4 linked regions of the Homo sapiens genome follow. The protein of the gene in region 2 interacts with the protein of the main gene of each other region in a pairwise test. Each region holds a gene or a part of one and is shown on either strand. Other genes may lie near its edges. The genes, in order: SECISBP2, FAM168A, BOLL and HR.

Region 1 (7,025 bases), on a different chromosome or scaffold from region 2:
CGGTGTTGTTCACCTTCCTTTGTAAAAGTATAAAGTTTAAATGACCATAAGTATCAATCACTCTGGTTGGACCATCATGCAGAAAAACCAAAATGCACTGTACATTTAGGAGTATGTATAGTCACGCGCCACATATGATGGTCTGATCAGCAATGGATTACGTATACAACAGCCCCATAAGATTGTAATGAAGCTGAAAAATTCCTATTGTCTACTGGTAATGTCATGGTGCGATTACTCACGTTTGTGGTGATGCCAGTGTAAACAAACCTACTGAGCTAACAGGCATATAAAAGTATAGTACATGCGATGATGTACTGTACATAATACTCGGTAATGACAATAAACAACTATGTCACTTGTTTATGTATTATACTTTTTATCTTTGGAGTATATACTCCCACTACTTACAAAAGAAAAATTTGGCCAGGGCAAGGTGGCTCACGCCTTAATCCCAGCACTTCGGGAGGCTGAGGCAGGCAGATGCAGCCACGAGTTCCAGACCAGCCTGGCCAACATGGTAAAACCCCAACTCTATTGAAAATACAAAAATTAGCTGGGTGTGGGGGCGCATGCCCCCTAGCTACTTGGGAGGCTGAGGCACAAGAATTGCTTGAACTTGGGAGGCAGAGGTTGCAGTGAGCCAAAATAGTGCCACTGCACTCCAGCCTGTGTAACACAGTGAGACTCTGTCTCAAAAAAAAAAAAAAAACACAAAACGACAAAAGAAAAACTTAAGTATAAAGCAGCTTCAGGCAGGTCCCTCAGGAGGGATTCCAGAATAAGGCATTGTTATCACAGGAGATGACAGCTCCACGCATGTTACTGTCCCTGAAGACCTTCCAGTGGGACAATATGTGGAGGTGGAAGACAGTGATACAGATGATTCTGACCCTGTACAGGCCTAGGCTAATGTGTGTGGTTGTGTCTTCGTTTTTAATTAAAAAGTGTAGAAAGTTAAAAAAAAATTAATAGAAAAAAGCTTATAGAGTAAGGATGTAAAGAAAGAAAATATTTTTGTCCAAGCCAAGTATTTTTGGTTTTTCTGCATGTTTGTGTTTTATTACAAAAGGTAAGTGTTATTACAAGAGTCAGAAAGTTAGAAAAATTAAAAATGTATAAAGTAAAAAAGTTACAGTAAGCTAAGGTTAATTATTGAAAAAAATACTTTTATAAATTTCATGTAGCCTAAGTGTACAATGTTTAGAACGTCTCCAACAGTGTACAGTAACACCCTAGGCCTTCACATTCACCCACCACTCAGTCATCGAATCACCCAGAGCAACTTCCAGTTCTGCCAGCTCCATTCATGGTAAGTGCCCTATACGGGTAAAACATTTTATATCTTTTTTTTTTTTTTGGAGACGGAGTCTCGCTCTGTCTCCCAGGCTGGAGTGCAGGGACGCTTGATCTCGGCTCACTGCAAGCTCCGCCTCCCGGGTTCATGCCATTCTCCTGCCTCAGCCTCCCGAGTAGCTGGAACTACAGGTGCCCGCCACCACGCCAGGCTAATATTTTGTATTTTCAGTTGAGACGGGGTTTCACCGTGTTAGCCAGGATGATCTTGATCTCCTGACCTCGTGATCCGCCCGTCTCGGACTCCCAAAGTGCTGGGATTACAGGCGTGAGCCACCGCTGTACCTTTTCTATATTTTGATACACAAATACTTACCACTATGTTACAACTGCCTACAATATTCAGTACAATAATATGGTCTAAAGGTTTATAACCTAGGAACAACAGGCTATATCATATAGCCTAGCTAGGTGGTTGGCTATACCATCTAGGTCTGTGTAAGTACACTCTAAATGTTCCCACAATGACGAAATCACCTAAGGGCACATTTCTCAGAATGTGTCCCCATCAGTAAGTGAGGCATGACTATAATTCTAAGGCTGATGAAATAGTTACCTTAACCTGATTGTGCAGCTGGGCATTTTAATTATTCTTTTTAGACATTTTATTGTATTGCAAATTTAAAGGGACTCTAATGAATTTTCTGTGCTAGTAAACTTTCCATCTTTCAGTTTGCTGGAATAAACTAGAGGGAAGCAGGTAGCATAAAACGCATAACCTCTTCCCCATCTTTCTCCTGAAATGCAATGGATAAGGTAGGCTGCAGCTACATGAAGCCACTCATTTAATTATAAGACCACAGTTACTACAGTTAATAAACGTCCCTTGTACCAGATGGTTTATGAGTGAAGTCAATGAAAAGAGAAAAATGTATATACCAAATAATACAAATTATAGGCACTTAAGATCCCACAATGCAACAGGTACCAAATAATAATCCCATCCCTGGGAAGAAATACCTCTAGAATTGCTCAGGAAGTCTGACGCCCTAAGCTGTGTCAGACCCAGGTCTCATTTCTTGGAGTAGTCACAATGAACAAGCCCATAGAAACAGCTGTATACATAGCAGGAATGTTTCTGGGGCACAAGGAGTAGGCTCGCATTATACTACATTGTTGGTTATTTTTACCTGATTTCAAACTATTCTCAGCGTAAATGGACAAATGATGTGAACCTCTAGCTGATTTTATCTCAGATGATATAGTTCCATCAGCCCTTTCACTGTCAAACTTTTGCTGATCATACGTTTTTTTCTCATCATAGGTTTTCTTCTGCAGGAAAGATTAAAAAGCAACATGAAATAAAACCACCACTATAAAAAAGGTTTAAAGCAGCAAAATATTAAGTATTCACAATTCAATCATTTTTTAAAAGGTTAAATACAAAAAAATACATGATACTTAAATATGATGTACAAATTTACCATTTCTTTACATTTTAAACATTAAAGCAACCAACTAAAGGACACAACAAAACAACATCACTACTCACCTTAAACAGAGCTTTCATTTCTTGTGGGAGAGGGCATGTGTTCTCATTTCGATGCTTCACTGTTTGAAAACCTCGGTAACAACTGGGTTGGTTATAAAGATACTGGGAGCCAGGCACTGAGTAAACATTCTGTGTGGAGTCAAGGGTATAAGGAGAATAGGCATATGGATGAAGAGTTATCTCAGAAGATAAATACTGAGGTGGAAAAGTTGAAGCTCCAAAGGCCATGTCTTCAGTATATATTTTCTGCCTAAGTAAAAAGTGTAAACTTTAGTTGCAGATTTCATACTGCAAACCAAGAAGCTTTTCTGTAATAAACTAATTCAAACTGAACATTTAATATTTCTGAGACCATTCACTCTAGCACTGGAATAATCCCTAATTAAAAGCCAAATAAAATCTCTGGGTGTTTCTTTCTCACCCTGCAAAGAAAGATGTTGACTCTATTTTTTCACTAATGAGCTGGAAGTCCGTAAGAAACATCAACAGAGCCAGAAGATGCTCCAGCAGCTTTTCACCCAATTGCTACCAAGTATTTGGGAAAGCCTCTCCCAGCAACCCTGGCCAAAATGCCCCTAAAGACCATTCTCTCTGCTGCGGGGAGACCCAACAGCCTGCAATGCCTCCACCAAGGCTCCTGCAAATGGTTTTCTCCAGCCCTTCCCTGCTCCAAGCCCACCATGACATCCTGCGCTTTGCTGACTAACAGGGTCAGAGCGCAAAGCAGACACCGCACGGCACCGTGGATGTTAACTACACACTTTACTAACAGATGGACACCAGCTTTGAAGGTTGCTATTGCCTCAATTTATCCCAAGCTGCTAGACTAAACCAAAATATAATTTAACACTAATTTTTCTTTTTTAGCCAATTTGATACAAGGCTACAGGTTTCAACCTTTTTCCCATGAAAGCTGATACAATGACAAAATGCTAAGCAACTGATTTAAAATACAAATAGTAACCTCCTCCTTCCAGCAAATGTTTCTGTTAATTTCCGGAGCTATTCCAAAATGTACTAGTACACTGAAAGGCAAAAAATCCAAACCTAGTCATGACACACCCTTTAAGACCTTCAAACTGCTACGCTGTCAGGAGATATGAGCATAAGCACCGCTTACTAGAAATCATATTTCTAATGCGCTGCAAGTAACAGACTACACTGAATAAGAAAGGGAGACTACAGGCTCTACCTATAATATAATAACGTTTACTGCTTTCACTTCTATCCAGTACTTAATCATATATTCTCTCATCTCACTGTTTACTATTTCATGATATGTTAACTTAGATTTTCTAAGATCTTTTACTTACAGGTAAGTAACTTTAACATGAAATATTCCTAATTAAAAATCAAATAAACCCCTTTTTACTGACCTTTGTCTGTCCAACAAAACAACTGGCCTAGCACTGCTCCAAACATACAGCACTGAGGACTAGCTCTTTGTAGAAAAGAGGCTCAAAGCTTCATCCCACTGCCTACATGTTCCTGTGAATTCTGTGCTGTATTTTGTTTGTAGTTGAGAAAAGCTAGTGGGGGGCAAGTGTCACTGAAGGTGGATAATCTGTTCTTCATAAAAGATGAGTTGACAGAAAAAAAAATGTGAAAAAGACTGTCCCAAGTCCAATAAATAGATAAATGAACAGACAAATGAAATGTAGCTAAAAAGGAAAGCAGGGACAGGTTCCATTGGTTTTGACGGCTGCTGTCATCCAGGAAATTTTCATCCAGGAGTCAGGAGACCTTGGTTGGGGTCCTAGCTCAATCACAATCCAGTTTTCTATTCTGGGTAAGTCATTTGGGTTTCTGTCCCCTCACTGGTCCTTCCTCCTCTGGAAAGTTGGTATTTTCCATTTCCATCCAGTGCAAACACAATTACATGCAGAAAACAACACAAAATACAAAACATCAAAGCAGTAACTCACAGCATCTGGCGTGGCTTCAAATGGCATGTCTGGGAAATTCCAGATGCCAGGAGTGGCCCAGATGACCCTAAACCCACAGTAACACACCTGTTTCTCATTCACTGTCCTAAGCTACCCCATCCATACTAAAATCAAACTGTCTGAGTAATTGTGCAATACCTGCTGGTCTCCTGGCTCCACTTCCCTTTGCCCCTTTCCCACCAACGGCTTCCAGGTCTCCCAGGACCTCCTTCTTGCCTCTCCCTCCAGGCACCCGTTGGGTCTGGCTTGACCATCACATGACTTGAAAAGCTCCCTGGCCTGGACTTTGCTCGCCTGGCTCTCACCTGCCCTCCAAGGCTCTATCTCTGTCTCTTTCCCTAGTGCAGTCTCCTCTACACCCTCCTTATCTCACCCATCTGACACATTCTGGGTCAGAACCTCTTATCTTTCTGCTTAGGACTTGACATAAATATAAACAATCCAGCACCTTCCCTAGTCCAGGCCTCCATCTCCAACTTTCAGGTCATTTCCACTTACTATTTCACTTTTTCCCAATTCAGCACGTATAAATCCCAAATTTAACATCCATTCCCCAAAACAGCCCCATTTACAACTTCTGTTCTCATGTATGATCCTACAATTATTTCCATGTATTCAACCGAATATTTTTGTAACATCTTTCCCACCAAAACCTGTACGGACAATCATGGGGCTCTTTTTTATTTCAACAGTTCTCTCATGTAGTTTCTTTACTATTTCCAGTGCCTAGAACCTGGTCAAAGCCTTCAAGACCCTCTTCTTTAAAAATCTTTCCAAAATTTAGGAGTGATTACAATGACCCCATTTAAGACACTACCAAAAGTTCCCTATTGCCTACCCAGCAAACCTAAAACTTTTCAGCTGTACTATGCAGGCTTCCAATCTACTGACAGCTTCCCCCCAAAATTATCACTTTATTCCTCTACTATCTCCCAAACATATCATGCACATGGTCCCTTCAGTCAGGCAACGACCCAAAGGGGATGCAGTTTCTCCTCCACCCACCGAGCCACGTGCTCAGCTGTACAATGTTGTATACCACTAGTTCTTCTCATAGCTGATCTGCTTTAACTCAAAAGCATCAATTGGTACTAAAATTTTCACAGTATATTGGCAGATGGTGAAAATGCTCAACTACCTCTTGTCAATAGCAGCAGCAATTTTGAAGAATAGCACGTTAATTCTGGTTCTGGTGCTACCTATTTGAATTAGCATGAACAAACATTCCTAGCTTCAGTTTCCCATGTGCAAAATAACATTACATCTGCCTGCCACCTCATGGATTGTAGTAACTATGAAAGAAGTGGAAGTATACAATAATACCCAAACAAAAGGCACACATCCTCATACACAGGTTGCACAGGATTTTTCACAAAGGATGTAACATGACAATGGACATTACTTGGAAGAAACTTATTTTGTTTGCATAGGCAAATTTGTTCATTACATCAGTAAATAATCAGTATTTTCCAAACATGGCAAATGTTATCTATCAGACTACTTCTAATTTCTTTGTCTTGTCCTATAACATAAATATGGAAGAGTCTGGTATGTTCATTTTCATCTCCATCACTTCAAAACTATGGAAGACTTTCAATAATTAATTCCAAATGAATAAATGAGCATCTTTGAGTGCACTGTGAAAGGTACTGGAGGAGGACAAATTCTGTAAAAGGTTACTATACCTTCTTTAAGGAAAGATGAGGGAAGGGGACATACAAAGTTGACTTAGGATGCTATGTAGTTGAACAAGTAAGAAGGAGGAAATAGTTGTTTCAGAAACTTCTATTCCTTTTGTCACAGCAGCAAGAGATCTCCATTTACATGTAATCTGACTATGGCAATGCAATTTTTAATCTATATTAGAACTGCTCAGATAATCAATTCTCAACCATGTGAAGTCTCATTATTTCATCCCCACTTTAAAGGATCTTTTCCTTTCTAACTCTTCCTCTTCAACTTAATGCCTTCCTTATCCTTGTTTTCTTGCCAGGCGTGAATACTTTTCCTTGGTCATAAACCAAAGCTAAAAAAGAAGAGTTAAGAAAACTATTTTTTTTTTTTTGAGAGAGAGTCTTGTTCTGTTGCCCAGGCTGAAGTGCAGTGGCGCAGTCTTGGCTCACTGCAACCTCCATCTCCTGGGTTCAAGCAATTCTCTACCTCAGCCTCCCGAGTAACTGGGATTACAGGCACCTGCCACCACACCCGGCTAATTTTTGTATTTCTGTAGT
Region 2 (7,025 bases):
TTTATATTAAAGCCCTAGCTTTTGAAAGCCCAAAATGAAAAGTGCCTGGGAGAAATGTGTTGGTGGATTTTTTTTTTCCACAGCCGTGGTTACCTGTGTAGTAGTAATGTGTTTTTGTATCTTTACCTCATTTGATCCTCCCGATATCTTGGTGAGAAGAGAGCAGATGGAGGTATTGATAGACAGAAGCCTTTGTGGAACGAATAGCCCATGAGTTTAGGAGTTGAGTCCCAGATTCAAATCCCAGTTCTACTACTTGAAAGCTGAGTGATTTCAGTCAAGTCATTAAAAACCTTTCAGATGGCCAGGCGTGGTGGCTCACGCCAGTAGTCCCAGCACTTTGGGAGGCCGAGGTGGGTGGATCACTTGAGGTCAGGAGTTTGAGATCAGCCTGGCCAACATGGCAAAACCCCATCTCTACTACAAATACAAAAATTAGCTGGTAGCACGTGCCTGTAATCCCAGCTACTTGGGAGGCTGAGGCAGGAGAATTGCTAGAACTGGGGAGGTGGGCAGTGAGCCACGATTGCGCCATTGCACTCCAGCATAGGCAACAAGAGCGAAACTCTGTCTCAAAACAAACAAACAAAAAACAAACAAAAAACCTTTCATATTTAGTGGTAATGGCTGCAAAACATTGTGAACATAGTTAATACCACTGAATTGTACACTTAACTTTGGTTAAAAAGGTAAAAATACACACACAAAAAAACCTCAAAAACCAAAAAAACTGGCCAGGCATAGTGGCTCACGCCCATAATCCCAGACTTTGGGAGGCTGAGCTGGGAGTATTGCTTGAGCCTAGGAGTTCGAGACCAGTGAGGGCAACATAGGGAGACCCGTCTCCACAAAAAAAAAAAAAAATTTGCTGGGTGTGGTAGCGTATACCTGTAATCCCAGATACTCAGGAGGGAGGTGGGAGGATTGCTTGAGCCAGGGAGGTCAAGGCTGCAGTGAGCCATGATCGTGCTTCCCTGCACTGCAGTCTGGGTTACAGAATGAGACCCTGTCACACAATCAAACTTTCATACTTCACAAGGCTGTCAAGGGGAACAAACCAGTTCATGTCCTGAAAACACTGTACATATATGAAATATCTGTTCACTATTTATTTATTTAATGAATGTCTGCTAAGTGCCAGGGGAAATAAAAATGAACAGAAAGCAGTTGTCAAGGAGCTTTCAGTGTCATGGGAAAGATAGACAAATACGGTGAGAAAAGTGAGGCAAAATGAATGCTATGGTTAAATGTGGGTTTTGAAGTCTGTCTACCACTTACTATTAGCTGTGTGACGTTGGGCACAATGGGCTCATCTGTAAAGTGCGAATAATAGAATTAACATCATAGGATTGTTTTGAGGATTAAATAAGATAATCAATGGAAAGCATTTCACACAATATGTTTTATAGTACACATTAAAAAAATTAGTTGTTGCCTTTATTGTTAGAAAGATAGGCAGAGGCTAGAATGGTGAATAGCCTTGTGTGCCCTACCAATGAGTTCTTAGTATTGTGGTATTTATTAATGAGGTATGATTTTGTTTTATGATCTCATGCATATTTGCATGTTTACAGTCTAGGAACTTTAAACAGTTCTTTAAATGCCAAAGTCCTAAACAGATGTTAGCTGTTAGCTTCCTCATTAATAAAATAAGAAGAAAAATTATGCTCTGAGAGGTTAAATGACTTGTTTAAGGTTACACAGTCAGTGGAAAAGTCTGGGTTACAGCCCCCAAATTCTAATTTGTCATCCCCATTTATATCCTTTTTTTAAATTGTAAAATATGTCATATGTATAAAAGTATATTTAACATAAACCCACAACTTAAAGAATAACAAATTGAAGGCTTTTCTACTTGCTACCCAGCTTAACAAAAAGGAGATTTCTAGTACCTTTAAAGCCTCTTGTGAGGTCCTACTTGATTGAATCTCCCATCTTCTCTCTCCCTCAGAGATAAACAGTTTCCTAAATTTTATGTGAATCATTTCTTTGCTTTTCTTTATACTTTTACCAAATATGTGCATATCCCTAAACAGTATATTTTTTACCTTTGCAACTTTTTATAAATAGAATTATAGGATAAATATTCTTCTGACTTGCTTTATTCTTATTCTTATTTTTTAACTTTTAAAAAAGCTTTATTTCTTCCACCATTAAATAATGTGTGCTCATGATAAAAACTAGAAATTACAAAAAGTAAAAAGAAGCATAAGTATTGTTTTTAGTCCTATTACCCAGTAACACTTTTTTTTTTTTTTGGTAGAGACAGGGTCTCGCTATGTTGTCCTGGTCAAGTGATCCTCCTTCCTCGGCCTCCCAAAGTGCTTACAAATGCAGGCATGTGGCACCATGCCTGGCTGGCAAATGCTTTTTGTAGAAAATATTTTGTGCCACATATGGCCTCTGTTGTTCTTTCTCCTCCCTTCCACTCCCCTTCCTTTTTGTCTCCCCATCTCCCTCCCCGTTCTTCTCCTTCCTGAAGCCCCTCCTCTTGCTTCTCCCCATTCCTTCTTCTCCCTCCCCTTCTCTTTCTCCTCCTTTTATGTGGTTTTAAGAATGTAAAACTCACAGGCCATACAAAAATAGGCCATGGGCGGGCCATAGCTGGCCGACCCCTGGTACGTTAACAGAAATCAACTCAAAGTTGTAAAATATTGAAGAGGAAAGAGACTAAACCAAGTTCATATTTCTTTCTCTATTTTGTTAAATTTACTTCCTTGGACAGTTATGCATATCTTTAGTATTGAAAACAATGGTATAGAATTTTTTTGTCAAATTATGTTTATCTAAAAGTTTAACATTTTATTAAATGAGCCATTATTTTCTGTATGAAGACACTCTGAGAAAACCTCAGTTTATAAAGTTCCAATACACCTCCTCCTCCTGCCAGTTAGGCAGGTGTCTGGGTCCTTTCAGAATATGCCTATTTTATGATGATATAGGTTGTGCTTTTTCTTAGATATAGACATTTTGAAGGAACCCTGAGATGATATATTTTTCACAGTAAACTTCAATCCTTGGCTACTTGAGATTATGATCTTGATTTGCCTTCTGATCATGTCGCTCAAGCTTGACGATTTCTGCTAACTTGTATTTCTTTTCTAGCCTCTGTTTTATAATTTTTCTAAGTATTTTAGTTTTCTAATGTGTCTTCCTCTATCTTTTATTTTGAGTTGATAGCAAATGTCTCTATCAGTAGATAACAGCTATGCTATTTATACTTATGCAAATATAATGGCGCCATTTTATATATAGTTCTTAGGTTGGTCATGTGGCATTATTTTCATTTTAAGGATGAAGAAATTAAGACTCTAAGAGGGTAGCTGGGTGCAGTGGCTCACACCTGTAATCCCAGGATTTTGGGAGGCCAAGGTGGGAAGATCGCTTGAGCCCAGGAGTTCAAGACCAATCTGATCAACATAGTGAGATCCAGTCTCTACAAAAAACAAAAATATTATCTGGATGTGGTGGCGTGCACCTCTGTTCATAGCTATTTTGGAGGCTGAGGTGGGAGGATCACTTGAGCCCAGGAATTTGAGGCTACAGTGAGCTATGATCATACCTCTGCTCTCTAGCTTGGGCAAGACTATATCTCAATAAATAAATGAATAAAAAGATTCAAGAGGGTAATTTGTCTTAGGCCATAAGACAAGTAGGGAATTAGCAGGGAAAGACAAAAGGTACCTAACATTTGAGTGTCTATGGCAGGCAGTATGCTGGGTGCTTTCTTTTCCTTATAGATAGAATTTAATCCTCATATTTGTGTCGTATAAGGAATTGTGATCATTTTACAGAAGAAGAAACTGAAGCAACTGAGGCATATAGTGATTAACTAGTTTGCATTTGTTTACATAGCTAGTAAGAGAAGAAAAGCTCGTATTTAAAAACCTGATCTGCCTTGCTCCAGAGCCATTGTTCTTTTTGTTGTACTGCATATAAATCTTCCTGGTTTTAAGCTGTTAAATCAGTAGTCTTCTTTTTTTTTTTGAGACAGAGTCTCGCTTTGTCTCCCGGCCTGGAGTACAGTGGCACGATCTCTGCTCACTGCAAACTCTTCCTCCCAGGTTCAAGTGATTCTTCTACCTTAGCCTCTTGAGTAGCTAGGACCACAGGCCCGTGCCACCATGCCCGGCTAATTGTTTGTATTTTTGGTAGAGATGGGATTTCACCATGTTGGCCAGGCTGGTCTTGAACCCCTGACCTCAGATGATCTGCCTGCCTCGGCCTCCCAAAGTGCTGGGATTACAGGCGTGAGCCTGCACCCAGCCTAATCAGTAGTCTTCAACCTATTTAGACAGGTAGTATCTGGCTACTCTTTAGAATCACCCGAGGAGCTGTTTAAAAAAAAAAGATATGTGTCAGTTCTACTCTCGACCAGTGTTAACAAAACTTCTGTAGGTGAGCATAAGGCAGATGTGTGTATATTTATATGGAAAATATAAATTAAAAATAAATTATATTGAGGTATGTATAACATGTAGAAAAAAATGCACAAAATGTATAACCAGCATTCGGATCAAGAAAGGGAACATTATCTCCTCCTCCAAGGAAACCAACAACTTCTAATAATGTAGATTATTTTTGCCTGTTTATGACGTTTCATAGGTGTGACTGGCTTTTCATATATAATATATTTGTGAGACTCATTTATTCTTGTATGTAGGTGTAGTGTGTTCTTGCTTATTGCTATGTAGCAACAGTTTCTCAAACATTTTGGTGTCTTCACATTCATATTTATTGACAACTCCAAAGAACTTTTGCTTGCAGTGGCACAGTCATGGCTCACTGCAGCCTTGACCTACTAGGCTGAAGTGATCCTCCATCCTCAGCCTCCTAAGTAGCTGGGACTACAGGCATGTGCCACCATGCCTGGTTATTTTAAAATTTTTTTTGTAGAGACAGGATCTTGCTCAGTTGCCCAGGCTGGTCTTGAACTCCTAGGCTCAAGCAATTCTCCTGCCTCAGCCTCCCAAAGTACTGGGATTACAGGCATGAGCCACTGCCTTCAGCTGTGTTAGCATATTCTAATGAAAATAAGTATATTATTCTAAATGTAAAAAATTAGAATAATATTTTACATTTAAAACAATCTCTTTAGTATCTTATTGGATCTGCCTCAGTATTCAGTCTGTTGCAGTTTGTTGTTTTGCATGGAATATAAAGAAAATCCAGTCCCACAAAGGAGGAATTTTCTTTTTCTTTTTAGACGGAGTTTCACTCTTGTCGCCCAGGCTGGAGTGCAATGGCAGGATCTCGGCTCACTGCAACCTCCGCCTCCTGGGTTCAAGTGATTCTCCTGCCTCAGCCTCCCAAATAGCTGGGACTACAGGCGTGCGCCACCACGCCCAGCTAATTTTTGTATTTTTAGTAGAGACAGGGTTTCAGCATCTTGCCCAGGCTGGTCTTGAACTCCTGACCTCATGATCCACCCACCTTGGCCTCCCAAAGTGTTGGGATTACAGGCGTGAGCCACCGTGCCCAGCCGAAAGGAGGAATGTTTTTATATAATTGTGGATATTCCTCTTTGATACTACACCAGTCATGTCCAGCCCTTTGAATGTGAGGACTTTTTTGCTTATCTGTAGTGGATATCATGAAAATTATACACACTTTTTTTTTCTTTTTTTTTTTTTTTCAGCTTATCAGCTATCGTTAGTGTTGGTGTATTTTATGTGAAGCCCAAGTCAATTTTTCTTCCAGTGTAGCCCAGGGAAACCAAAAGGTTGGACGCCCATGTTACACCAAAACTTGACAATTGGTAGTTTGTTAAGGTTCATTGCCTTGTACAGTCTGAACCATATCACTGAGCTTTTCATGCTCTGTTACATTAAAATCCATTGGTCTGTTTTTTTCTTTATTATTTTTTAATTTGCTTATTTCTCCAAGAAAAACCATTGGTCTGTTCGTACTTTGTTAGATCTTTTACCCGTGCATAATTTTTGTAGCATTATGCGTTGGTCATTTGGAAAATATTGGTTCACTGAATATCTTAGTCTGCTCTGGCTGCCATACCAAAATGCCATAGACTGGGTGGTTTAAACAACAAAAATTTATTTTTTCGCAGTGTTGCAGGCTAGAAAGAAGTCCAAGATCAGTGTTCCAGCATGGTTAGTTTTTGGTTAGGGCTCTCTTACTGGCATCTAGATGGCCATCTTCTCGATGTTTCCTCACATGGTGGATTGGAGAGGGAGAAGAGAGAGAAAGAATAAGTGCGAGTGGACAGGCAAGCTCTCTGGTGTCTCTTTTTGAAGGCACTCATTCCATCATGGCAGCCCCACCCTCATGACCTAATCTAAACCTAATTATAAATCATCTAAACCTAATTATCTCCCAAAGGATGTGTTTCCAGATACTATCACATTGAGGAATAGGGCTTCAATTTATGAATTTTGAGGGGAGGCAGTTCAGTCTATATTATTGAGTTATTGTGGAGCATCTTTTTTGAGACCGGGTTTCACACTGGAGTGCAGTGGTGCATTCACGACTCACTTTGGCCTCAACTTCCTGGGCTCACGTGGTCATGTAATCCTGCCACCTCAGCCTCCCGTGTAGCTGAGACTTCAGGTGCAGGCCACCGTGTCTTGCTAATTTTTGTAGTTTTTCATAGAGACGGGATTTCACTGTGTTGCCCAGGCTGGTCTCCAACTCCTGGGCTCAAGTGATACCCCTGACCCAGCCTCCCAAAGTGCTGGAATTACAGATGTGGGCCACCGCACCTGGCCATGTGCAGATCTTCTGAACTGTATAATGTTTAAGAACCCACATTTGTTAATATCACCACTCATCTCATCAGACAAATCTTTTCTAATTTTCATTTGAAAGCTCAAATTTTATCATAGGCAACCAATACTGACAGTTGTTTTCGTTGAAGTGACAGTCTCACATTGTTCATTTTCAAAAAATTGTCTGCCAAACATCCAAGTCTGAATAATCATAGTTTTTCTGCCAGTCGTTTTTTCAAGTAAAAATGGTGTTTATTAAAGCAGCCAGTACAGTTTGCAACTCAATTGCACAAGTGCTTTAGT
Region 3 (7,025 bases), on a different chromosome or scaffold from region 2:
GAAAACTGTTTAGCCATATATAGAAAATTGAAACTGGACCCGTTCCTTACACCTTATACAAAAATTAACTCAAGATGGATTAAAGACTTAAATGTAAAACCCGAAACTATAGAAACCACAGAAGGGCTGGGTGCAGTGGCTCATACCTGTAATCCCAGCACTTTGGGAGGCCGAGGCAGGTGGATCATGAGGTCAGGAGCTCGAGACCATCCTGGCCAACACGGTGAAACCCCGTCTCTACTAAAAATATGAAAATATTAGCCAGCTGGGCATGGTGGCACGTGCCTGTAGTCCCAGCTACTCAGGAGGCTGAGGCAGGAGAATCACTCGAACCTGGGAGGTGGAGGTTGCAGTGAGCCGAGACCACACCATTGCACTCTAGCCTGGGCGATGGAGCAAGACTCCGTCTCAAAAAACAAAACAAAAAACAAACAAAAAAACCCCAAAACACACACACACACACACACACACACACACACACACAAACCATAGAAGACAATATAGGCAATACTATTCATTCAGGACACAGGCACGGGCAAAGACTTCATGATGAAAACATCAAAAGCAATTGCAACTAAGCAAAAATTGACAAATGGGATTTAATTAACTAAAGAGCTTCTGCTCAGCAAAAGAAACTATCATCAGAGTCAACAGACAACCTATAGAATGGGAGAAAATTTTTGCAATCTATCCATCTGACAAAAGTCCAATATCCATAATGTACAAGGAATTTAAACAAATTCACAAGAAAAAAACAAAGAACCTCGTTAAAAAGTCGGCAAAGGACACGAACAGACACTTCTCAAAAGAAGACATTTATCCAGCCAACAAACATAAAAAAAGCTCAGCATCACTGATCATTGGAGAAATGCTAATCAACACAATGAGATACCATCTCACACCAGTCAGAATGGCGATTATTAAAAAGTCAAGGAACAACAGATGCTGGTGAGGCTGTGGAGAAACAGGAACGCTTTTTTACACTGTTGGTGGAAATGTAAATTAGTTCAACCATTGTGGAAGACAGTGTGGTGATTCCTCAAAGACCTAGAGGCAGAAATACCATTTGACCCAGCAATCCCATTACTGGGTATATACCCAAAGAATATAAATCATTCTATTATAAAGATATATGCATGTGTATGTTCATTGCAGCACTATTCACAATAGCAAAGACATGGAATCAACACAAATGCTCATCTGTGATAGACTCGATAAAGAAAATGTGGTACATATACATCATGGAATGCTATGCAGCCATAAAAAGGAAAGAGATCATGTCCTTTGCTGGGACATGGATGGAGCTGGAAGCCATTATCCTCAGCAAACTAACACAGGGACAGAAAACCAAACACTGCACGTTCTCACTTGTAAGTGGGAGCTGAACAATGAGAAACACATGGACACAGGGAGGGGCACAACACACATTGGGACGTGTCGGGGCTGGGAAGGGAGAGCATCAGGAAAGATAGCTAATGCATGCCAGGCTTAACACCTAGGTGATGGGTTGATAGATGCAGCAAACCAACATGGCACAGGTTTACCTATGTAATAAACCTGCACATCCTACACATATGTACTGGAACTTAAAATAATATAAAATAAAAAATATAAAATAAAACATACCATGCACAGTTCCTGGCATACAGATGGTGAAGCTATAAGTAACGGATCAGAAATATAATTTAAAGATGCTGAAGAGGATATTAAAATTTGTAATTATAAATTTAATTTACATTTTTGTAGGAAGAATTTTTTTAAAGATTTTTTTTCTTCTTCATCTTAATTATATGCTTTTGACTAATAGAATGTTAGTAACAATACAGATTGACAGGCAAAATGAGAATGCAGAGTATTTGGAATTTTACTATTTCAAAAAGATCAAATCAAAGATTAGCTTAGTGGAGTGAATGGTTGATTTGGGAAATGGTTCAGAACTAGTTAGCGAAAAAGTCTAAGATGATGCATTCTTAGATATAAGAAAGGGGAAGAGATTTGAATAAATCAACAAAACAAAGATGAAGCAGTTTCAATGAGGGTCGTGAACAAATTTAAAAAAGAGAAAAAGAAATAAATGTTAACATGAGGTAGTTATAGATCAATTACTTTAAGACTAATACATACCTCTGGAACTGAAGTTTCCATCAGAGACAGTGGAGGAGGAACACATCCACCATCCTGTGCAATTTCCACTGGTTGATAAATAACCTCAGAAGGTTGCAGGTATAAGAATGGAGCAGAAGAGGCAGAAGGCTAAAATACAAAACCATATTTCTAATTCAAATATGATTAGTTATTTCTGTTAAACCAAATGACTTAGCCAACAGATGAGAGAAGTACTTGTTTTTTATTTTACTAAATTTTTTTTTAGGAATAGCACAGAAGTATCTCAGCAACGGATTAGAAACTGATCTGTTATAAATTCCAACTGTGTAGATGTAGTTAAAGAATCTTATCATTGGTAAGCACTAGAACTTCTTAATGACTGAGAACCTCATATATAAATTCAGATAATAATTATGGTTATATTAATGTCACCAGTAAAGGTTGTGATAATGTGATCTATGGTATTTAAATTGACATAAATGTCTACTCTCAGCTCTGTGACTTCTAATGAAAGTGGGAAAATGTGAAACTTTTTTGGTGAAGTACTATTTGTTACCAAAAGTTGGGAAATAGAATACTTATTTAGGAACAGAATAAAAACTGAAGCCAAATCCAAATGAAGTTAGAAAAATGCTAAATTTTCAAATAACACTAATAGTAAAAAAGGGTAAGTTTTCATGTTTATACAGTACACATTTATAAAATGCTTTCACTTATGCATTATCATTTGATATTCACAAAAATCATGTAAGGAAACTTACAAAGGTATAGTATCATTATATCCATTTTACAAATGAAGAAACTGAAAATGAACTGCCAAAAGAATAAGTTAATAAACAGAAGAAGAAGGTCTCAAATCTAAAAAACTTTAGTATTCATGCAGTCATCACAAGAATATAATGAAAGAAGGATTTAAAATTATATATTGAAAGTTAACATTTACCTGAGGAACACTCCACTGCCACTGTCCTGGTAAATACTGTGTGGTGGCCTAAAATTAAATAAAAGAAAAGAAAAACCCATTCTGATTATAAACAAGGGTTAAAACTAGATATCTACAGGCAAAAATATGAAGTTGGACCCTCACACCATATACAAAAATTAACTCAAGCCATATACAAAAATTAACTCAAAATGGACCAGAGACTTAAATGTAAGAGCTAAAATTATACATCTCTTAGAAAAAAACATAGGTGTAAATGCCTGTGACCTTGAATTAGGAAATGTTTTTAAAATTATGGTTCCAAAAGCATAAACAACAAAGCAACAACAAAAAATAGTTAAATTAGATTTCATCAAAACTTTAAAAAACTTTTGTGCAAGTGAAAATACAACCCACAGGATGAGAGAAAACATGGAACTTATATCAAGAATGTATAAAGAACTCTTACAACTCAATAATCAAAAGACAAGTAACCCAACTTAAAAATTGGTAAATGATATGAATAGACTTTTCTCCAAAGAAGATATACATATGGCCAATAAACACAAGAAATAATGCTCGACACCACTAGCCTTCAGGGAAATACAAATCAAAACCATAATACAACATCACTTCATACCTACTAGGATGGCTTTAATCAAAAAAGTAGATCATAAATGTTGACGGGCACGTGGAGAAATTAGAACCCTCATAATCTGCTGGTGGGAATGTAAAATGGCGCAGCCCTTTGGGAAAATAAACACTTCCTTAAAAGGTTAAACAAAGTTACCGTATGACCCAGCAATTCCACTCTAGTTATAAAACCTAAGAGAAATAAAAATATGTGTTCACATAAAAATTTGTATGTGAATGTCCATCGCAGTATCATTTATAACAGTCAAAAAGTAGAAACAACTCAAGTGTCCATCATCTGATGAATGGATAAACAGAATGTGGTACAGTGTATCCATACAATGGGATATTATTTGAGAACGAAGTACTGAGATATGTCATGTCTCATTTATCATGACATAGATAAATCTTGAAATCATTATGCTAAATGAAAGAAGCCTGTCACAAAAGACCACATATTGTATGATTGTTTTTATAGGATATATCCAGAATAGGCAAATCTAGAAAAACAGGTAAGTAGATTACTGGTTGCCTAGCACTGGGATAAGGGGAAAAAGAAGACTCAACTCATCTACTGTAGCACAAAAACAGCCATAGACAATAAGTAAACAAATGTGGCTGTGTTCCAATAATGTTTTATTTACAAAAACAGGCTGCTGGCTGGAGTTTGGTCTGCAAGCCATAGTTTGATGACCCTGCTATAGACCAGAATGATCTGGCATTATAGTTCACTTATCCCCAATTTCTCACTAAAATTAATGAAGAGTGCTGGTTAACTGAAAGAGGATATCATAATATATAATAAACCACAATATATTATTTGCTTTAATATAAATTATGTTAAATATAATATAGCAAGAAACTGACATATGTTAACATTAAAAAACCAGCTTGCAGTCCAATACCTGTATCTTACTTGGGGAATTATTGCTAAAGACTTTTTAGATCTAAATGTTAGCCAGGGGAGCAAAACTGACCTCATCACATTTGGTAAAAGGAAGCAAAGAGTCCATCCATCTTCTTGTATGACATTGTTTAATTCCCTCGTAAAAAAAGAGAGGCATGATGTCAGCAAGATGGCTGACCAGAGATGCCTAGCATTCATTTTCCACTGGCTCCCCACCCCGCCACAAGAAAAGACTAAGGCAAAGAATAAACAGCTACAATTTGACAGGAGCATCAAAAGGAGAGTGCTGGAGTGCCGCAGGGGAGTGGAGACACACCTGTGGTGATTGCAAATCCAGGAGCGCAGCATGGAGCCACCCAGCCTCTGCAAACCCTTCTCTTCTGCTAGGATTGGTTCTGCCTGGAGTCCTGCAGTTTCTTATTGCAGGGAAAAGGTAAGCAGAAGATCCCCACCAGCCTGCATTGCTACTGCAAACAGCCACACTCCTTGCAACAGGAGAATCCCACAGTCTCACAGTTTGAAGAGCTGCTGGGAATTCGTGGCTGCATTGCCCCGAATTAGGAGTACAAAGTGTGTACTCCCCACCCCCTCAACCCCACCCTGTGAGCGAAGCTGCTACAGCGTGACAGCATCTTGAAGCCATAGTCATCTCTAGGGGGCCAGTAGCTATTGCACGTCTCCAGTACTGGGGTTCCATTTTCATTCTGCCAAGTACACACCAGTGGCTGAACACAACCTCAGCAGCATGGAACCTGAGGCTCAAGATTGGCTGTGATTCTGGTTCTGTACAGTAGGGAAACCAACGTCTGTTGCCCTCACCTCCAGCTAGAGGAACAATCTGGCTGACCTGCCCAGGGTGAACCCACTCTTTAGCTGGTCAAACTGCTGCACTCTCCTGAGCAGGACAGGTCCTCAAGCCTCGTAGTAGCTGACATGCTGCCGGGATGGAATGGTTACACACCTGCATACAGGGCTGAGAAACAGCCCAGAGGTGCCTCACGCCCTGCAGACAAGCCCCTGACCTACCCTGTGCATGCAATTAGAGCCCAAGAAACAGCTCCGGGGACTGCCACTGGCAGAAATGTCCCCAGGGGAGTGGAGTGGCTGTGTGTCCATGCCTCAGGCCTAAGAAATGGCCTCGTGCCCACCCCTCCAGCAGACACGTCCCCAGGACAGCTGAGCAGCCTGGAGCCTGTGTCCCAGGCCTGAAAAGCAGCCCCATAGGCTGCTTCCAGTGGGCATGATCCCAGGCCGACCAATAGCCCTGTGCCTGCATTCTGGGCCTATGAAACAGCCCTCACAGAAACGTTTCCAGGCCGGGTGATCCACCCTGTGCCTATGTCCCAGACTTGAGAAATAGCTCCGTGGGCCACCCCCAGCAGACATGCCCCTAGGCCAGGTGAGCAGTTGTGCACCTGCATCCTGAGCCGGAGAAACAGCCCCTGACAAACATGTCCCTAGCCGACTGAACAGCCATGCAGCTGTATTCCAGGCCTGAGAAACAGTCCCATGGGCTGTCCCCAGCAGATGCACCCCCAGGCCAGCGAAGGAGCCATGTGCCTGCATACCAGACCTGAGAAACAGCCCCACAGGCTGCCTCTGGTGGGCACTCCTCCAGGCTGGCTGAGAAACTGCATGCCTGTGCTCTCAGCCAGAGTAACAGCCCTGTGGCCCCAAGCCCAGTGAGCCAGACTTACCATGTTCATGTACACAGCCCTGACCTGAGGAACAGCTCAGCAAGCCCACCCCTGGCAAAGCCCTACCACCATTGTCATAGACTCTCTTTTGCTAGGTCACTGAGAAACTTGGAAACACAACTAGAGAGTATTACAGCTTAAGAGACTAAACAGAGACTACCCTAGCAGATAGGTTGAATCTAGCAGATTCAATCTAAACAGATCCTCTCAGAGGCACATTATAGTCAAATTGTTAAAAGTCAAAGAGAAAGAAAGAATTTTAAAAGCAGCAAGAAAAAAGTATCAAGTCACAATTAAAGGAATCCCCATTATACTAACAGCAGATTTCTTAGCAGAAATCTTACCAGGGAGAATGGGATGATATATTTAGATATATTCAAAATATTGAAGGAAAAAAACCTGCCAGCCAAGAATATTATACCCAGTAAAGCTATCCTTCAGAAATGAAGGAGAAATACGATCTTTCACAAGGCCAGGTGTGGTGGCTCATACTTGTAATCCCAGTGCTTTGGGAGACTAAGGCAGGAAGATTGCCTGAGCCCAGGAATTTGAGACCAGCCTGGGCAACATAGCAAGACCCTATCTCTTAAAAAAAATTAGCAGGCAGGGCACATGCCTGTAGTCTCAGCTGTGTGGCAGGCTAAGGTGGGAGGGATTACTTGAGCTCACGAGTTTGACACTGCAGTGAGCTATGATCATGTCACTATACTCTGTCTCTAAAAAAACCAGCTCTTTCATAGACAAGCAAAAACTGAGAGAA
Region 4 (7,363 bases), on a different chromosome or scaffold from region 2:
TCCTCCCCCAGGATTTCTCAGACGTCCCCACAAGGAAGTCTAAGAACTAAAGAGTGAATGCCTGGCACAGCCAAAGGGCATCTGGGGTCTGTTTGGGCCATTTGGTGTCCTGTGCCATACTGAGTTTTAAGTGTTTTAACATCTCATCCCTGGGAGTGGGAGTCATCTATGGAGGAGGTACCCTAGACATGGGCCATGGGGTCCCCTGCACATCCCAGTCTCAGATAGAGGGCCCTTGTCTGCCCACCCATCTCCTCCCAGGACAAGCCACACATTCCAAGGCCACAGTTCCCAGGACCTTATCCTAGGCAGACAATGGGTGAGTCAGTGGCTGCAATGACCCGAGGGCAGGGGAGGCCTAGAGAGATGGAGCTGCTCAGGGTAGGGCTTGCTTGGGGTTGACTGTGGGGCCTGGGACAGCTCCAAGCTGATAGACCCCTCTACCTCGGTGCTGCCTTCTCTTTTCATCACAGTGGAAGGGCATCTTGGGGACCACCGAGCAACTTTGCTAGGCCAGAGCCACAGGTACCCTCTCTGCCCCTGCACTCACCTTGCTGCCTAAGCTGAAGGCAGAGGGCACTTTGGGCTGGCCCCCGGAGTATACCCAGGGGTGCGGGGTCAGGGGCCAGTCACATGGATGCTCTGGGGGCAGGCCAGACACTAGGTAGGGTGGCAAGCAGGTGGGCACCCAGAAGGGAGCTCGCTCCAGGATCTTGGTCTCCAGAAGGAAAGGGCAGTGCCAGGGCCGGAAGGCCACAGGGTCACTCTTGAGATGGCCACCACTATGCTCAGGCATCAGGGGGCCACAGCGAGGTGGGCACGCTGGCCCGCAGAATGCCAGCGGATGGGTAAGCATGGCCTCCTTCCAGCGCAGTCCCTCTTTGCTGCCCAGCCAGTTGACCTTCCTCTCCCCATTCTGGGGGCCCTCGCCCTCCACAAGTGGGAGCATGTCCTTGGGGCCCTGGGGGAAGCCAGGGGGAAGCCAGGAGTCTGGGGTGCTCAGGACGCCCCTCCAAAAGGGAGCAGGCTCTCCCAGGCACAGCGGCCCATGGTGCAGTCCATCTCGAGGCGGGCTGCCGGGCTCCTGTCTCACGATGCCGTTCTCTGGGGCCGTCTTCTCCCAGGTTGGGGTGCCCTTCAGGAAGCTGGGCGTACTCTCCATCACTCTCCTGCCCTCATGGGGCTCTCCCAGAGGGGGGTCCCTGGAGCATAACCATCAAAGCATGAGCTTCTGGGGCACATGTCCCAAGCACCTTACAGCCTGGCACAGAGTGGGCACCGCCCTGGCAACACTGAGGCAGCTCAAACCAGTAAGGCAAGTGCCAGCCCACAACTGGGCACCATGCTGCCTCTCCACATGCAGCCAGACACATCTTGCTCCTCCAGTGTGGGGATGTTACCCCTTCCCCAAATTCCACCTGGGCCAGTGCCCCTCAGCGGAGGCTGCCATTGCTAGTAGGGCATGTCCTGGCCTCACCAAGCTAGGAATCTGCTCACGACCCATGAGGGAGGACAGAAAGTGGAAGGCACTGAATGAAGAAAAAGGCTGGATCCTGAGCCTGACTCTGTCCTATGCTGTATGGCCTTGGGCAAATCATGTCACTCCTCTGGGCCTCAGTGTGCCCTTGAGGCTTGGGTCGGCTCAGAGGATTCTTCCCATCCTGCAATCCGTGGTTTTGGGGGTGCTGCTAGCCCAACCCTAGCCTACAGCCCCAGCCAGGCTTGTAGCCGTGGGAAGTGCAGGCCTGGCAGGCTGGAGTCGCTGGGGAACGCTGCCAGCCAGGGCCGCTGGCTGTGTCTCTCTCTACACCTGGGCGGCCCTGAGTCAGCCTCTTCCCAGAGCCCTGCAGTTTCTCGGCTTCTCAAGCAGAGTCCCAGGACAACTGCAGGGGGCTAGGAACCCCGCCCTGGCCCCCAGCGGGAAGAGCGCGCCGGCACAGGGGAGGGGGATTAAGAAGCCTCAGCTGGATGGGTCAAGCTGCCCTAGCCCAGCCAGCAGTGCCAGGGCAGCCGCCACCGCCGCTGGAAACTTCAGCCTGGCGGGGAGGGGAGAGGGAAGGAGGCGGGGAAAGCGGGCTGGGCCCCAGAGAGAGGCAAGGGAGGGAAAATTGAACGTGCGTGCAAGGGACCAGGATGACAGGTGGCACTAGAGCGGCAGCGCTGCCTTGGCGCGGTCCCTTCGGCCAGAGCGACGAAGCCCCAGGCGGGAGGTGACGGCGCAGTGGCAGAGGGCGCCCAGGTTTTCTGGAGCCACCGCTCCGCCGTGGTCTGGCCGCGTCGGGCTTCCTAACTTTCAGGTGTCAGAATGTGTGGCCCAGCCCACAGGGGCACGGGGAACACGCTCCGTACGGGCACCGCAGGCTCGGCTCAGAAATCCCCCGCCACGAGTGTCCCCAGACGGCGCGCTCCTGGCGCTTACCTGGGCTTCACCGGCCGGTCGCGGCGCGGGCGGTGGCGGTCGTCGTGGCCGGCACCGGGCGCCTGCTCCCCATGGGCCAGCTCCGGGGCCTCCCGGCCGGCGGGCGAGGACGCGTTCTCCCGCTCTGTCTGCTCAGCGCGCTCGCGCTCTCCTTCCCCCGGGGCGGCGGGGGCGCTCTAGGGCCGCAGGTTGGAGGGGTCGGACTCCGGGATCTGCAGGATGCGGCACACGGCGCGGATCGGCCGCACCAGCTTCTGGGCCGAGGCCGTAGGTTGCGCCATGGGACGCCGAGACTCCGTGCTGCGCCGCGGGGAGGGCCGGGCCGGGGCTAGGGAGCGGGTGCCCCCGGAGGGAGAGAAGGCGCCGGGCCGGGGGGAACACGCGCCCCGGGTCGGAGATGGCCGAGTTGGGGGAAAGGCCGAGGGGCCGGGGAAGGGGGTCGTGCCTGGATGGTGGGGGCCGATCCTGGGACCCAGGAGAGAGGCACCGGCGAGGGCGCAGCACCGCGCAGCGCGGCTAATGGAGGTAGAGCGCGGCGGAGAGCGCAGCAGGACCTCTGATCGCCATCGCCAGAAGCGCAACTGAGAGTGGGGAAGCTGCTCCGCCGGTTTCCTCCTCCAGCACCCTGCGGGAAACAGGAGCCCGTGATTCGGCGGCCGCGCCTGGGCCTGCCCCCTCCCGGGCCCCGGGGGCTTCCGCCAACGCCCCGGCGATGCCACCGGCTGCGCACGGGGAGAATGAGCCCTTTGTTCCCCCTCCCCCCCGCGGCACCCGGGCGCCTGCCGAGAGAGGCTCCCCCGGGGCAGCGTGCCAGCTTCCCAGCCGCCCCACCCTCCCGTGGGCCCGGCCCCGGAGCCTGGCAGGCGGGCGGCACCCCCACTATAGGTGCCAAGCCCGGGAACTGGAGCAAAGGGCGGGAGGGGCCGGACCAGGCCACGGTTGGGCGGGGTGCCCCCCAGGGTGCTAGGGCGGGGCGGCTGGGAGGGGGCAGTGCCAGAGCTGGCAGGGGCAGTCGAGTTCTCACGGGTCAGTGATGGGCGCTCTGGCCCACGCCAACCGGGCTGTGCCTGCCGGGCCACTGGCTCCTGGTCCTCTCCATCTGTGGCACATGGCACGCCCCACTGGCCTGTGTCTGCCCTGCCTCATCCTCACCTGGCCAAGCTGCTCTTTGCCATCTTCCACCCCAAACCCTTCCCAAACCTCTTCCAGAGCCCAAGGGCACAAAGGGTTGCGTCCTAGGACCTCTGGGAGGGCCTGGGCTTGGGTCTGTCCCTGGTCTAAGGGCCTTGATTTTGCCAAATGTCTGGAGAGGTCATGGGCCCAGATGAGCTCCGACACCGGCTCCAGACCCCGGGCTGTGAGGGTCTGCCCCATCCCCAGGGTTCCTGGTGCTTCCAGGCCAGGGGCTGGAGAGGCGCCCATGGGAGTGGCTCCCGGGAGAGTGCAGAGAGGAGGAGAGGAAATGGAAAAGCAGGGCACCCTCCACCCGAGGAAGCATCCCGGCTCCGCTGCGGGGGTGGTTCCAGTGCAGACACAAACAGACAGATTCAAACACACACAGACAGATTCAGACTCACACAGAAACCCACACGCCCAACGGGCGCTTCCCTTCCCCTCAGGCACCCACCTCCCACCCTCGGCTCCCCTGCCTCCCTGCGGAAGCCAACCTTGGCCTGCCTGGGACAGAAGCTGCACTCCCTCTTTCCCATCCCTTGCAAGCGATGGGTTCTGGATGCCTCTAGCTTGGTCCCAAGTCACACCACCATCCCTGCAGAGGGGAGCCCTGAATAGCCAGGAGCCTTCCTCCTAAGGGATGAGCAAGGCCTAGAGCCTTCTACCGGTTGAGAAGAGTGGGGGTCCTGGGGAGCGGGGGTCTAAAGGAGCGGGCACTGGGCCGGACTTGGGCCATGTTGGCATCCATTCACCCTGCCCCTGGCCTGCCCCCAGAGGCCAGTTCTGTGGCAAGGCAGGCTGGTAGGGGTTGTTTACATGACTGAGTTAGTAACACTCCCTTCCTCCCCAGCTCCCCTGAGGGTGGCTGGGACCTGAGTGTGCCAGGGGAGATGCTTGTAGAGGGTCTAACATGGACTGGAGGCCCCAGGCCCTGAGGCCCGGCCTCCCACTCCCAGGCTGGCTCCAGGGGTGAAGGTAAGGGCTGGGGTGTGTCTGTGGTCCCCCATCTGTGTTCTCTGTGCTCCCTCCTCAGCAGCCGAAGCTTGTGGGAGTGCCAGGGGGAGATTCCTGCGGCTTGGGGCCTCGGAGAGGCCAAGATGGGAGCCTGCGCTGTCCAGAACCCTGAGGACCTATCGCTGACATCCCCAAAGGGGATGGGGACTATCCCAGGGGAGTGGGGCAGATATCCCCCCCAACCCCAGTTGCCATGTCTGCTTTGTCAGGCCACGGTCCCTGGACTAGAGTAGCAGGGCTCTTGGGGACAGGCTCCTGAAAAGCCCAGGGGCTCGTGGGGACTCGCGGGATGGGAGGAAGGACCCCTTCCCCACCCTCGCCCAGCTCCCCATCCCGCTTTGGAGCCCATGCCACAGGCCCACAGAGTCCTTGTAGCCGGCTGTTCTGTGCCTGAAGACGGAGCAGAGCTGAGGAGACACACAAAAGACACAAACACAGAAGAAAAGCCACACGGCGCGTGGACACAATGCCAGACTTGTGGACAAAGGCAAGCTGACCAGCACCCCCAGCCATTCAGGGGCCAAGCCCCAGCCCCGCACCGACCCCTGGCTCACTGACACACACTCACTCGCTGACACACGCTCGTGCTGACGGGCACAGCAGCACTCACGAGCCGGCGGCCCTCATGCCATCCCCAGAGCCCCTTACCTGGGCAAGCACAGTGCCCCCCGGGCGGAGCAGCCCCCGGCCCAGGGGAGGGCAGCAGGCGGGGGCGGGGGAAGGAGCCCCGGAGAGTCAGGCCAAGCTGCCACTAATCCGGGCGGGGAGAGGGGGGGCACCCACGTCAGAGCGGGGACTGCCGGGTGGAGGGCATCTGAGGACATCCCCTCCCACACACGCGGCCGTCTGGGCACCTAGCCCTGCTTCCCCAGCCCCTCCATCCTTCAGACAGCTGAGGCTGGCCTCCCCCCACCCCACCCCCCACCCTGTGGCAACGCCTGGTGGGGGATGGGGAAGGGGGAATACCAGGCGAATTCTCCCGGGACCCGCGGGGGTGGGGGCAGGGTGTGGGGAGGAGGGGAAGGGAAGTGTGGGGATGCGTTTGGAACCCGGAGGAAGCTCCAAAGCAGATGCCGCCATCCCCTCCCGCCCACCCACCTACATCCCTAACCTAATTCCTCTTCTCAGTCTGCACCTCCCAGTGCGCTTCCTCCTCCCCCCACCTCCCCTCCCCTCCAGGTTACCCCCACAAGCTACCCACCGGGGAGAGGAAGCCAGCTCCACTCTGCCCTGGGCTTGAGACCTTTGTGCCTACCCGGAAACACCAACTGTGGCCCCCAGGACTTCTCCAGCAGCAGAGAATCCTCCTCCTGCCCAGGCGTCTGCCCCCTACCCAGCTCTTGAGACCTCTGGTCCCTGATGCTGGGTAGAGGATGGAGCCAGAGGCTGAGTGCCACCTCCTTAACCCCCTCAAGGTGGAGGGCAGTGCCAACCAGGATGCCCCAACCCAGCCTGGGCCAGGGCTGTGTCAGAACTAGAGGCTAATCAGTGACAGCTAAAAATACAGCCAGTGCGTGCGGCGCACATGGAGGCTGGAGACGGGGAAGGGGACCAGGACACGGAGGGCCCCAGGCCTAGAGGGACAGTGATGGGGGCTGAAGAGTCAGGGAGGGAGAGGAGCCACCTGGAAGGGCCAAGGGATGGCTGTGGGTGGAGAGCAGAGAGAAGAGAGGGGCAAGAACAGAGGGCGATCCGCACCCAGAAACCAGGGTGGATATGCAGGAACCCCTCAAAAGCAGACAAGCTGCAGGGGAGGTGAGGAGTGAGACCAGGGCACAAACCAAGTGGGGCAGGGGCCAGGACCCAGCAGAGGTGTGCAGCTCTAAGGGGACTGGCTGTGGCAGCTTTGTGTCCCCACCAGCCCTGATCCTGCTCGTGGCCCACTGTCTGGTGGCGAGAAGAGGGTTGGGGGTGCTTAGGCAGGCTGGCATGCAGCCTCCTCTTCCAAGAGAGGCCAGGCCAGAGGGGGTGGAGGGTGAGACAGTAACCCCCTCCAGTGTGCAACTGGAGGCAAAGTGTGCAACTGCTGGGCAAAGGTGAGGTCTCAGGGGTTCTCAGAGAGGCAGGGCTGGCTCTCAGGGAAGCCCAGTTGACAACCAGTGCCCTGAGCCTCCGGGTCCCATGTGTGCTCACCCAGAAATGCCCCAGAATTTGGACTTCTCCTGGCTCCTTCCCCTCTGTCCCCAGCATGTGTTGGAATTCATACAACTGCAGTCAGCCGTTCACCAAACCCGTGTTCTAGGGGCCTTGGCATGTTCAAGGCTTGGCGGTGGGCCCCAGGCGATGCAGGGCACAAAGGCAGAAATCACGAGGCCATCCCACCCGCCCGGCCTCCCCCACCCAGAACATATGGTCACTTCACGCATTTGTTCTTTCACCAGCAAAACTCCTCCAGGCTTCTTAGGTATTGGCCCTGTGCTGGGCGCTGGGGGTGTTGGGCTTGTTCATGAATGATTACAAGATGCTTCTAGTCCCACCCTGGGGAAGTCAGGGGAACTTCATGGAGGAGATCAGAGAATGAGATCAGGACTTCACCACCCAGTCGCGAAGTTACAAAAGTATTTCACTTCGGTTAGACCATTTGTTCCAGGCTGAGCTACAACAGTGTGTAAAATACGTCTGTCCTTTATGAAGTCACAACACAGTGGGGGAGAAAAGGTCACATGCTCAAGGCAACAACAGAAGTCTGTGCAAGAACAGAGGTGGTGTGGTCCAGACAGCAAACCACTCCGAGGTGAGGGAGTGCTTGCGGAGGGC

What was found.
Region 1: the proteins of FAM168A (region 2) and SECISBP2 interact in binary tests that used the Homo sapiens proteins (3 or more experiments, as listed by UniProt).
Region 3: the proteins of FAM168A (region 2) and BOLL interact in binary tests that used the Homo sapiens proteins (3 or more experiments, as listed by UniProt).
Region 4: the proteins of FAM168A (region 2) and HR interact in binary tests that used the Homo sapiens proteins (3 or more experiments, as listed by UniProt).

What each region holds. Positions count from the first base shown.
Region 1 is NC_000009.12:89,321,500-89,328,524, reverse strand, and holds part of SECISBP2 (selenocysteine insertion sequence-binding protein 2), read right to left. Parts: intron 3,099-7,025; coding exon 2,849-3,098; intron 2,629-2,848; coding exon 2,487-2,628; intron 1-2,486. UniProt on the Homo sapiens protein: mRNA-binding protein that binds to the SECIS (selenocysteine insertion sequence) element present in the 3'-UTR of mRNAs encoding selenoproteins and facilitates the incorporation of the rare amino acid selenocysteine.
Region 2 is NC_000011.10:73,588,106-73,595,130, reverse strand, and holds part of FAM168A (protein FAM168A), read left to right. Parts: intron 1-7,025.
Region 3 is NC_000002.12:197,754,304-197,761,328, forward strand, and holds part of BOLL (protein boule-like), read right to left. Parts: intron 4,705-7,025; coding exon of another isoform or gene 4,639-4,704; intron 3,854-4,638; coding exon of another isoform or gene 3,845-3,853; exon of another isoform or gene 3,830-3,844; intron 3,098-3,829; coding exon 3,050-3,097; intron 2,254-3,049; coding exon 2,125-2,253; intron 1,659-2,124; coding exon of another isoform or gene 1,627-1,658; intron 1-1,626. UniProt on the Homo sapiens protein: Probable RNA-binding protein, which may be required during spermatogenesis. May act by binding to the 3'-UTR of mRNAs and regulating their translation.
Region 4 is NC_000008.11:22,128,009-22,135,371, forward strand, and holds the start of HR (lysine-specific demethylase hairless), read right to left. Parts: upstream 3,003-7,363; 5' UTR 2,701-3,002; coding exon of another isoform or gene 2,596-2,700; 5' UTR 2,420-2,595; intron 1,203-2,419; 5' UTR 1,163-1,202; coding exon 551-1,162; intron 1-550. Other genes in the region: protein HRURF, read right to left, coding at 2,596-2,700. UniProt on the Homo sapiens protein: Histone demethylase that specifically demethylates both mono- and dimethylated 'Lys-9' of histone H3. May act as a transcription regulator controlling hair biology (via targeting of collagens), neural activity, and cell cycle.